Regions from separate parts of the Homo sapiens genome. Here region 1 is linked to region 2. The links come from fine-mapping of genetic effects on gene expression. A gene starts in region 2. The other region holds a variant in brackets. All regions are shown on one strand. Distances are between the middles of the regions. Region 1 overlaps SPRING1 (SREBF pathway regulator in golgi 1). Region 2 holds the start of SPRING1 (SREBF pathway regulator in golgi 1).

Region 1 (5,376 bases), 25 kb after region 2:
GGATGAAAACACCTTTAGAAAACATTTCATTGGTGGGGCGTGGTGGCTTATGCCTGTAATCCCAGCACTTTGGAAGGCTGAGGCAGGTGGATCACCTGAAGGCAGGAGTTCAGACCAGCCTGACCAATATGGTGAAACCCCATCTATACTAAAAATACAAAAATTAGCCGGGTGTGGGGGCGTGTGCCTGTTTTTGTGAGACTCTGTCTCAAAAAAAAGAAAAAAATATTGTTAATAAGTGAGTGTTTTCGGCTCAAGGGAATTGAGTCATACGTTGCATCTCCCCCAGTTCTGCATCTTATTTGCTGCGCTTGCTGGAGTTGTAAAGATTGGTCCTAACAGGGAAAGAAGCACACAAGAGACTGTGAAAAGGGCTCTGAGACAAGCAAGGACAAAAGAGGGAGGGAAATACCTTCCACAGGGCCTGGGATCTGGCAATGCTAGAGCCTTTTTTTTTTTTTTTTTTTTTTGCGATGGAGTCTTGCTCTGTTGCTCAGGCTGGAGTGCAATGGCGTGATCTCAGCTCACTGCAACCTCCCCCTCCTGGGTTCAAGCAATTCTCCTGCCTCAGCCTCCTGAGTAGCTGGGATCACAGGCGTACACCACCACACCCAGCTAAGTTTTTGTACTTTTAGTAGAGACGGGGTTTCACCATGTTGGCCAGGCTGGTCACGGACTCCTGACCTCAGATGATCTGCCCGCCTGAGCCTCCGAAAGTGCTGGGATTACAGGCGTGAGCCACTGCGCCCGGCATGGAGCTGCTATTGATGGGTGAGCTCCACAGCTTTTGCAGAAGCAGAGGATATGACTTGAGAGCAGTGCTGTCACCTCTCAGCATGTCCCCAAGCCCAACTGGGGCCTCCTGGAGATGCCTCAGTCGGCACTGGCCCCAAGGGAATCGTGGGGAACAGTTGCACAATTTGCAAGTTTCTGAGTGCAGCTTTTCCCATCCTTGGGATCAGCAGATAAGTTGTAAACACAGGGAGGTACTGCTTATTGGATATACTTTTCATAAGTAGGACAGAATTCTTTTGGGACTCTAGAGTTGGGAACTACCACTTACTAGCGGCGTGGCTGAGGCAGTCTTCCTCCTCTGTGGCTCAGGCCCTTCATCTGTGAAATGGGGTCACAGCATCTGCCTCTCAGGGTCACTGTGAGGTGTCGATGTGAGCAAGGCCTGAGGCTTGGCAAGAAGTCAATGTCTGCAACTCAGCAGGGAGCAATGGCAGGGGCAGTCAGGGGTCGGCTCGGATAGGGGTGGGTGGGCTCCTGAGGTTGGAAGGGTAGGAATTACAGAGCTCTTGTTACTATTGTTGTTACTGTTTTTAAAGATACGATATTTCAGATAATTCAGGAGCACGTAAGGATGAAACTTAGGATAACCTAAAATCACACAACCTAGAGAGAAGCGCATTTTTGTCTTCCCCCATTTTCTAGGCAAAAATGAAAGTACTTTGTCCTCTTGAAAAACAATTCTCTAATGAATATCCTATGTTACATAGAGGCCTGTGTAATGCATTTGTGTGGCCACATGGTGTCAATTTCATGAATATACAATAATATTATTAATTCCCTGCTGAGGACATTAACTGGTTTCCAAGGCTGCTTGTTGTTTTTGCTACTACAAATAATGCATTGATGATAAATACTTTTACATACATGGTTGTATGTTTATCTGAACTATTTTCACCAATATATTCACCTAGTGTGTATGGAAGTGTCCATTTTTGTCATACCCCTGGTAACCCTGTGATATTATTTTTAAACATTTTGCTAATGGATCTCTGTTCTTGTTTGAATGTATTTAATTTCCAGCAGAATGAGCCCCATTCCTTATTTTGATTGGCCATTTATCATGTACATATGGTGAAATGCCTATTCGTGACTTAGCCAATGTTGTTTCTTTTTCTTACTGATTACTACAGTACATTTTTATATGAAAGCAGCCTTTGTCCCCTTCTCTTGTTTTTCAGCCCTGTGTTAGAAACAACTAAGCTCACATATTCACAAACCAACTTTTCCAGTTCATCTAGGGCAGTGGTGCTCAACAGGGGCAATTTTGCCCCCCAGGGAACATTTGGCAATGTCTGGAGACATTTTTGTCACAGGTGGGGAGGAGGGCAGTACTGTGGGCACTCGTGGAGGGAGGCCAGGGATGGTGCCCAACAGCCCCCACGACACAGAATTACCTGGCTGGAAGTGGGAGCCGGGTGGAGGGAGGGAAGCCCTGCTCTGGGGTCATATCTCCCCGTTAGATTGAACAGAGGAGCTCCTGGTAGCTGAGTGCTGACTTCATTATTTTTCCCCGCCCTTGCTTTCTACCCTGCTGAAGTGCTGCTGATTAAATTACCCTGAAATCCCCACAGGACACATTACTTCCTCACAGGTCTCTACTAGCCCAGCGCTGCCTCAAGGAATGGCATTATTCCTTTGCCACTGTGTCCTCACCGCACTCTTGGACTCCGCCGA[A/G]TGCAGACACCCTCCTGTCTGCAGAAGGATCTGGAGGGGTAGAACGCTTCCCCTCTACGACGGATTGACTCCCCAGCACCTCACCAGCAGTTCTTTGAATGGAGTGGCTTTGGAGGTGGGAGTTGAGGAAGAAATGTGAGCCTGTCATTACAGGTTCTGTTTAGAAAACTAGTCATTCTACTAAAAAGGTATCACATAAGTAAGTAGGAGCAATAAAAACAAAGAAGATAGTGGGACTCCGAGAAGCTTTCCCCGCCTCTGGCCTGTTAGTCTATCGTTCGTTGGGCAAGGCTCTTCCAGTGTGTGACCTTTTGCGTGTTATCACAGCATGAGTGCAGTTTTGTGTACAGGCATCCCTATATTCAGCATGTATCTGCAACATGCCTTACCTCGTCTGCTGTCACAGAGCAAAGTGGAGCAAGTGGTCGCCGTTGGTCTGCACCTGAGCTGGGAGCCGAGTGGTGACGTGCATATGGGCCGACTGCGTCTCCACAGAACCTACTCAGTGATCTTCCTGTGTACGACTCAGTCCCTGATGTTGGAGTTGAACTGTAGGACTGTCTGTAAAATGAAAGTGCAGACTTTAATGTAGTAAAGAGAATGACTTGCCAGTTACAACCAATGAGCAAAGCAGTTAATTATTCAAATATTTTACCAAGAGTCCAGGTTTATTTTTTCTCAGGACTACACATTCTGTGAGACCAGAGGGACCAAGACATATCACTACCAGAAATGTGTTTTCATCAGCACTGCCAGAGGTTTTCATAGGGTAGTTTACTCTTGGAATTTTTAAATTCATACTTTTTTTTATGCAACGTGGGGTAGGTAAGCTTCTGATCACTGTGCACCCAGATTATCCCAAAATCGAAAGTGGTGTTGGCAGCCGGGTGTGGTGGCTCACACCTGTAATCCCAGCACTTTGGGAGGCCAAGGTGAGAGGATTGCTTGAGCCCAGAATTCGAGACCAGCCTGAGCAACATAGGGAGACCCTGTCTCTACAAAAAATAAAAAAAAGGAGCCAGGCATGGTAGTGCACACCTGTAGTCCCAGCTACTCAGGAGGCTGAGGCGGGAGGATGGCTTGAGTCCAGGAGGTCAAGGCTGCAGTGAGCCGTCATTGCGCCAGTGTGCTCCAACCTGGGCCACAGAGTGAGACCCTGTCTGAGGAGGGGAAAAAAGTGTTGTCTAAATGAGAAATCACCATTATCAGTAATTTAAGATTCCAGGCTATGTTGGTCACATCTCACTATTCTTTTTTTTTTGAAACGGATTCTCGTTCCATCGCCCAGGCTGGAGTGCAGTGGCACGATCTGGGCTCGCTGCAAGCTCTGCCTCCTGGGTTCACGCCATTCTCCTGCCTCAGCCTCCCGAGTAGCTGGGACTACAGGCGCCCGCCACCGTGCCCAGCTAATTTTTGTATTTTTAGTAGAGACGGGGTTTCACCGTGTTAGTAGCCAGGATGGTCTCGATCTCCTGACCTCGTGATCCGCCCACCTCGGCCTCCCAAAGTGCTGGGATTACAGGAGTGAGCCACCGCGCCTGGCCACATCTCACTATTCTTAAGGAAGAGAGAGAGCGAGAGAGAGTGTTGTCCTGTCCTGTGGGGATTGGGGCATTGTATTAAGTTGTACTGGGGGATGTCAAGATAGAAATGTTGAGTAAGTTACTACCTGAATAAATATTTGACCAGTTGATGCTAATTTGAATAGTAAATGTGATGACATTATATATTCTCAGGGATGTTTCCATACATTGGCTCTGTGTGTGCGTGTGTGTGTGTGTGTGTGTGTAACAAAAGCAGTATGAAGTATGTGAGCAATATCCTAATTTTATTGACAAGAGCACTGACCTTAATGACCTTGAGTAAATTACCCTCTCCGGCTTTGGTTTCCTCATTTGTCAATTAAGGGTGATGGCTAGCGTATCTTGCAGATCCAAATTCCAATTTTTGTAACAAGCCAAAAGTCCCCCTGGCTGTTAAAGCAAGACCAGAGCCCTCGTATCCCAGCGGCTGGGTCCCAGGCTTTTGATTTTCACAGGACAAATGTAGCCCAGCCATCTGGAGCCCGTTTTTCTCCAAACCAGGGCTTCCTCCTTCTCTCTTGCAGATTTCAACTGGGGCTCACCATTTTCTGCCTCTTCCTCCTCCAGTTTTAAAGAGACACCATATCCTTCTCTGCTGGGACCAACTTCCCATGTACTGCTGCCCTGCACCTGTGAAAACAGCTGCTGTGTTTTCTGTCATAAAAATAGCTGCCTTTTGGCAGAGAAGCACACAACGGTACTACGTTTCTGAGCCTTAATGCAGTGCTCAATTATTTAGGTGTGCTTCACCTGAGATACACAGAGCATCTTGGAACTCCTACTAAGCAGGGCTTCTACAGGCATTGCTCAGCTCAGTAAAAGGTTTTCCTTTCTCTGCTTTTGTGATTACCAGGCAGAAACCTTAAAATGTATGAACTTACAAAGAAATTAAATTGTGCCAAATTAGATTCCCAGCCCCTAGAGATAACCACTAATTAAAGTTCCGCTGGAGCGTTTTGCCTGTATTTTGTATATAAACGTGGATTTTGTATTTGTATGTAAATAAAGGTAGGACCCTGCTGTCCATATTATTTTAAAATAATTAGCTCCTGTTAGATTGATTTAATCCAATGATAGCGAATTCATTTGCAGAGCAGGCAAGCGCACTTTCCACTTCTATCATCCTGCCTGGAAGATTGAAGCCCAGTTAGAGGTTAAAACCCTTTCATAATTGCACAGGAGTTTAGCTTTGCCTGCTTTTTCCTTGTCTGATTTTATGCAGTGGGGAAGGAAGTCTTTTTGTTCTGCACAAATAAATTATAGGCATTTGTCGCGGCCGGAGTTGACCTGCATTAGGGATGCTGAAGAAACCTGTCACGGCAGG
Region 2 (5,342 bases):
TCACTGTGAAGAGCCACATGGACTTCAGAACTCCATGTTGACGACACTGGAGGTAGGCATTCGGGAATCCTCAGGGGGATGTGACCAATGGATCCCAGAGAGGACAGGCCTCCCCCTCCTCTTCGTCTCCAGAGGGATGCACAGTCAGGGGAGCTTGCCAGAGACTCCAAACCTGGATGGAACAGAACACCTGGATGAACAGTCCCTGCGATACCTTGAATCTGCTAAGAAGCCTTAGGACATTGTTGGTAGCTATAAGCAGATGATTCCATCTGCTCAGTATCTCTGGGTAGCCTCTCAGTGATCCCCCCTTGAAACTCCTTTTTTTTTTTTAAGACGGAGTGGTGCGATCTTGGCTCACTGCAACCTCTGCCTCCCAGGTTCAAGCGATTCTCCTGCCTCAGCCTCCTGAGTGGCTGAAATTACAGGCTTACAGGCATGCGACACCACGCCCACCCAATTTTTGTATTTTTAGTAGAGATGGGATTTCACCATATTGGCCAGGCTGGTCTCAAACTTCTGACCTCAAGTGATCCGCCTGCCTTGGCCTCCCAAAGTGCTGGGATTACAGGCATAAGCCACCATGCCCGGCCCTCTTTGAAACTCTTAAGGTATTGTATTTCATCCTATTGTCAAACTAAGAGTCCTGATTGGGGAAGCCAGAAAATATGTTTTAAACCCTCCAACGGCTGCCCAGTGCAATCAGAATCAAACCCGAGCTCTGTCCATAGCCTACGGGTTCTTCCTGATGTAGCATCATCTGTTTCCAACTGCATTTCCTCCCATTCTCCCTTTTCCCACTCCTGTCCACCCACAGTGGCCCTTCTGTTCCTCTAATGTGTCAGCGTGTCCCTGCCTCAGGGCCTTTGCACTTGCTGTGCCCTCCCCTTGGAATACTTTCTCCTCTAAATGTGGCAGGGCTTGGTCCCGCAGGGCAAATGTCGTCTCTTCCCAGAGGCCTTCTCTTCTCATTCTCCTGACTCCCCGTAATATTGCCCTGTTTTATATTATTCATAGCACTTATTTGTTCATGTTTGCTTATTTATTTATGATTTGTCCTCCCCATTAGAATATAAATGCCATTCCTGAAAGTAGGGATCCTGTCTACTTGGATCACCCCTCTGCCTCAGCATCCAGGACACTGTTTGGCACAGAGTGGCGCTCAACAAGTATTTACTCAATGAATAAAACATCTATGGGTCTCCCAGTTCCCCTTTTCTAGATCCCTTGCTCCCTGTCCCACCTTTCACCCTAGCAAGGTAATAAGGGCCATCTACTTCCCATGAAAAGGTTTAGCCTCCGTGAATATCTTCTTGTCTCTGGAGGCAGAGCCAATATTGTGGATATAGGGTGTCTATATCAGTCAGATGGTGTCTGACTTCAGTTTAGGGCACGATTATTGGCTGTTGAATGACTTCCTAATCCTGACCAGGCTTCTTGAGGGGGCAGCAATGGTGTCACTAGGGCCACTGATTAAAAATGACCCGCCAGTGAAGCCTCCTTTCTCTTTTGAAAAATTAGGTAACAAACCGGTCAGCAGCAGCATCTTCATATATCAAGAAAAGGTCATTATATAAATATTTTTCAAGAATTTGCAATCTCAACTTAATCCTCCTCTCGCCCCTCCCTCCATTATCCCACATTGCAAATCCTTGGGGGAAAATAAAATTCATATTCCAAAGTTCTCATCCACACATTTAACTCCTAAATCGAATGCTCGAAACTCTACTTTCGGATGCTTGTATTGGAAGAGGCTTCGGATTCTTTGTCGGAAGCAGGCCGTACATAATTCTGGAATAAATTTTTGCACGCGGGATGCATCTGAATGAATGAAACGCTTTTTAATCCTCTGCTCTGTACATCCCACTATGTCCCTTTGAAGGACCGCACCGAGACTTTTCGATGCTTGCGATGGTTCAAGTTGCGCCCCTGGGGCCCGTTACAGGACTGCACCGAAATGCACTCAGAGGAGCATCGCCTGCATCACTTGGACTGGAAGCCGGCAGGTGCACTTCGGGAACAACGTCGCGAGCGCTTTTCATCCCTGCAACCAACACACAGCGCAAAACGCTCTGGGACTGCAAGGGCAGGAGACTACACAGACCATGATGGGAGAAAAGAAAAAAAAATCGCGTTCTCTTTTTACCTGCCCAGACAATTCAGCAATCACAGCCGCATCATTCAGGTCCAGCCAAGCCAATCACCCGCGCAGCCTGGGCAGCATGTGACTTCCGATGCTTCCGGCCTCCTATTGGGTGGTTTCTTGGCGTCGCCGGGTCCGGCGCTAGGACCCGGGCACAGCTACGCCCGCAGCACTCACGCGATTGTCCGCCCCCTTTCCCGGCACTTAACCAATAGGAGGCCGCCGTTCCTTAGGGACCAATGGTGAGAAGATCTTGCGCGACTAGCCCTTGTCGCTGCGGAGCGGAGGCGGGGCGTAGGGCGGGGTCACGTGGGGCTGCGCCCAAGGCTGCCGGGAGCAGACTGGGCTGCGGGCGGCGGGGCCGGCGCCTGCCTGGAGGGATGGGGCTGCCGGGCGCGTAGGGGCCATGCCGCCCGGGACCCGGGCCTGCCGCGTTCCGCGCCCCGGCCGCCGCGCCCCACGTCCGCGCCGGGATGGTGAACCTGGCGGCCATGGTGTGGCGCCGGCTTCTGCGGAAGAGGTGGGTGCTCGCCCTGGTCTTCGGGCTGTCGCTCGTCTACTTCCTCAGCAGCACCTTCAAGCAGGTCAGTGGCCGCCCTTCCCCTCCTCCCCTTCCCTTCTTCCTTCCTTCCTCCCCCTTACTTTACTTTCTCCTTCCTTCCTTCGTTACCTTCCTCCTTTTTTCCTTCCTCCCTGTCTTCCTACCCCTTCCCTTCCTTTCTTTCTCCCCTTCCCTTCCTTCCTCCTTCCTTCCCTTCTTCCTACCTCCCCTCCTTCCTTATCTTCCTCCTTCCTTCCCCTCTCCCTGCCTCCCTTCCTTCCTTACCTTCCTCACCTTCCTCCTCCTTCCTTCCTCCCCCTTTCCTTCCTCCCCCTTCCCTTTCTTCTTTCCTCCCCTTTTTCCTCTCCCTTCCCTTCCGTCTTTCTTCCTTCCCTTCCTCCTTCCGTCCTCCTCCTTTCTGTCCCCCTCTCCCTTCCTTCTTCCTTTACTCCCTTTCTTCCCTGACATCCTCTTTCCTCACTTCGTTCTTCCTCCTTCCTTCCCTTCCTCCTCTTTTTCCTTACTCCTCGCGTTTGTCCGACCTCCCGACTTCTGCAGCGGCGCCGCCGGGGCGTCCGAGGGTGGGGAGAGGTGCGCATTCCTGTCCCGGTCTCAGCACGGGTGAGGGACCTGCCCACCGCCTTGGTCCCTGCAGCGGGAAGGGGTTGCTAGGCCAGGGCAGAGCTGGGACTAGAACCCCGAGTTGAGGACCCTTCAGCGGTGGGGACTGCTTTTATGAACACCTCCCTGCTTTTCACCTGCCCGGTCCAGAGCTAAGAGAGGGCGTGCATTTGCTGGCTTCATCTTCGCAGCAGGCCTGGGAGAAGTGGGGTTCCCAGTATTACAGTGGGGGAAACCAAGACATAGGTGGCGAGGGTCGGCCAGCCCTCGCATGGGTGCCCTTCGTTTAATTTGGGGGCTCTGTGTCCTCCTGGGTGACTCAAAAGGACCCACAGTTCCTTTTATGCTTTTTGTGCATAACTTGATTGGTAGAATTCCACCCCTCCAACACACTGCACCCTTTCATTTTTCTTCCATGTGAGAATTTCTGGGAGAAACAGCAAGGAGCACGGGTGGGGAAATCTTACCCAAAGCATTAATAAGTTTGTCTAGAAGTCCAGGTTGAGTGCTTAGTTGTGTAGAAAGGGTGGTTACACCCCAGGGTGCACCCAGGATAATGGGTTATGCTGTTGTCCTGACATGGTTATAAAAAGCTCTCCTTTTTACTCTCAAAGCTCAAGTGTGTAAATAAAATATATAAGTGAATAGAACATTGATAAAACTATGTGGTCACTCTACATTTAGTGGATTGGCAGGGGAGCTGTGAAAAGGGAAGAATAGGGAATTGTACGTGACCTGCCACCTTAGGCAAACAGAGAGGCTGAGTGTTGTAAGTCCCTTTTATTGGCCGGGATGTCTGGGCAATCATGTGACTACCAGACTTCTGTGACTTGTGTTTTCTGCCACCTCAGACACCTCCTCACAGTCGCGTGTTGTCCCTTCTCTGTCTTGTGACCCCTGAGTGGTGGGGTGCGCCAGGACTCCGTCCTCTGCCTTCCTCTCTATCTGACTCAGGTAATCTCTGGGCCATTGTTTAAATACTCAGGTGATCTCTGGAGGTATGCTGTTGATGCCAGTAGTTGATAACAACAGCCTAGATCTGTCCAGAAATCCCCAAATTCTTATATCCAATTGCCTAGTTGATATCTTTTTTTTTTTTCAATTTTTTTTTATTGTGGTAAAATACGACATAAAATTTCCCATCTTTTTTTTTTTTTTTTTTTTTTTTTTTTAAAGACTGAGTTTTGCTCTTGCCCAGGCTGGAGTGCAGTGGGACGACCTCAACTCACCACAGCCTCCACCTCCCGGGTTCAAATGATTCTCCTGCCTCAGCCTTCTTGAGTAGCTGGGATTACAGGCATGCGCCACCATGCCCAGCTAATTTTGTATTTTTAGTAGAAACGGGGTTTCTCCATGTTGGTCATGGCTGGTCTTGAACTCCCGACCTCAGGTGATCCACCCACCTCAGCCTCCCAAAGTGCTGGGATTACAGGTGTGAGCCACCACGCCTGGCCAGAATTTCCCATCTTAACCTTTTTTAACATGGAGTCTCACTCTGTTACCCAGGCTGGAGTGTAGTGGCATGATCTCAGCTCACTGCAACCTCTACCTCTCGGGTTCAAGCAGTTCTCCCTGCCTTAGCCTCCTGAGTAGCTGGGATTACAGGCATGCACCACCACACCCGACTAATTTTTGTATTTTTAATAGAGACAGGGTTTCGCCATGTTGGCCAGGCTGGTCTCGAACTCCTGACCTCAAGTGATCCACCTGCCTCGGCCTCCCAAAGTGCTGGGATTACAGGTGTCAGCCACCACGCCCGGCCCCATCTTAACCATTTTTAAAGTGTGCAGTTCAGTGGTATTAAATACATCCTTAACGCTGTGCGACCATCACCACCATCCATCCCCATAACGCTTGTAGAAACTGAAACTTAATATTCATTTAACAATAACTCTCCATTTCTCCCTTTCCCCAGCCCCCGGCAACCACCCTCCTACTTTCTAGTTGACGTTGAATGTGTTCGTGTTTGGACCAACAGAACTCTTGATTCTCTGCCAGCACTTGTTCCTCCCCGAGTCTTCCCAGTCTCGCTCAGTG

Evidence for each region.
Region 1: its variant is fine-mapped to the expression of SPRING1 in esophagus mucosa (GTEx, PIP 0.92).

What each region holds. Positions count from the first base shown.
Region 1 is chr12:116,709,889-116,715,264 of GRCh38, reverse strand. It overlaps SPRING1 (SREBF pathway regulator in golgi 1), which reads left to right. Exons shown (of 5, transcript NM_024738.4): 5 at 1-5,094. Among named protein-coding and RNA genes, the nearest start is that of SPRING1, 25 kb to the left of the region's middle. The variant A/G (reference allele first, on the strand shown) is at 2,470.
Region 2 is chr12:116,735,175-116,740,516 of GRCh38, reverse strand. SPRING1 (SREBF pathway regulator in golgi 1) reads left to right here and starts at 2,448. Exons shown (of 5, transcript NM_024738.4): 1 at 2,448-2,727. The coding sequence starts at 2,617. It overlaps RNFT2 (ring finger protein, transmembrane 2), which reads right to left and starts at 2,202. Exons shown (of 11, transcript NM_001382266.1): 1 at 2,147-2,202; 2 at 1-172. The coding sequence starts at 19. RefSeq lists enhancers at 1,920-2,179, 2,948-3,906 and silencers at 2,370-2,629, 2,710-2,759.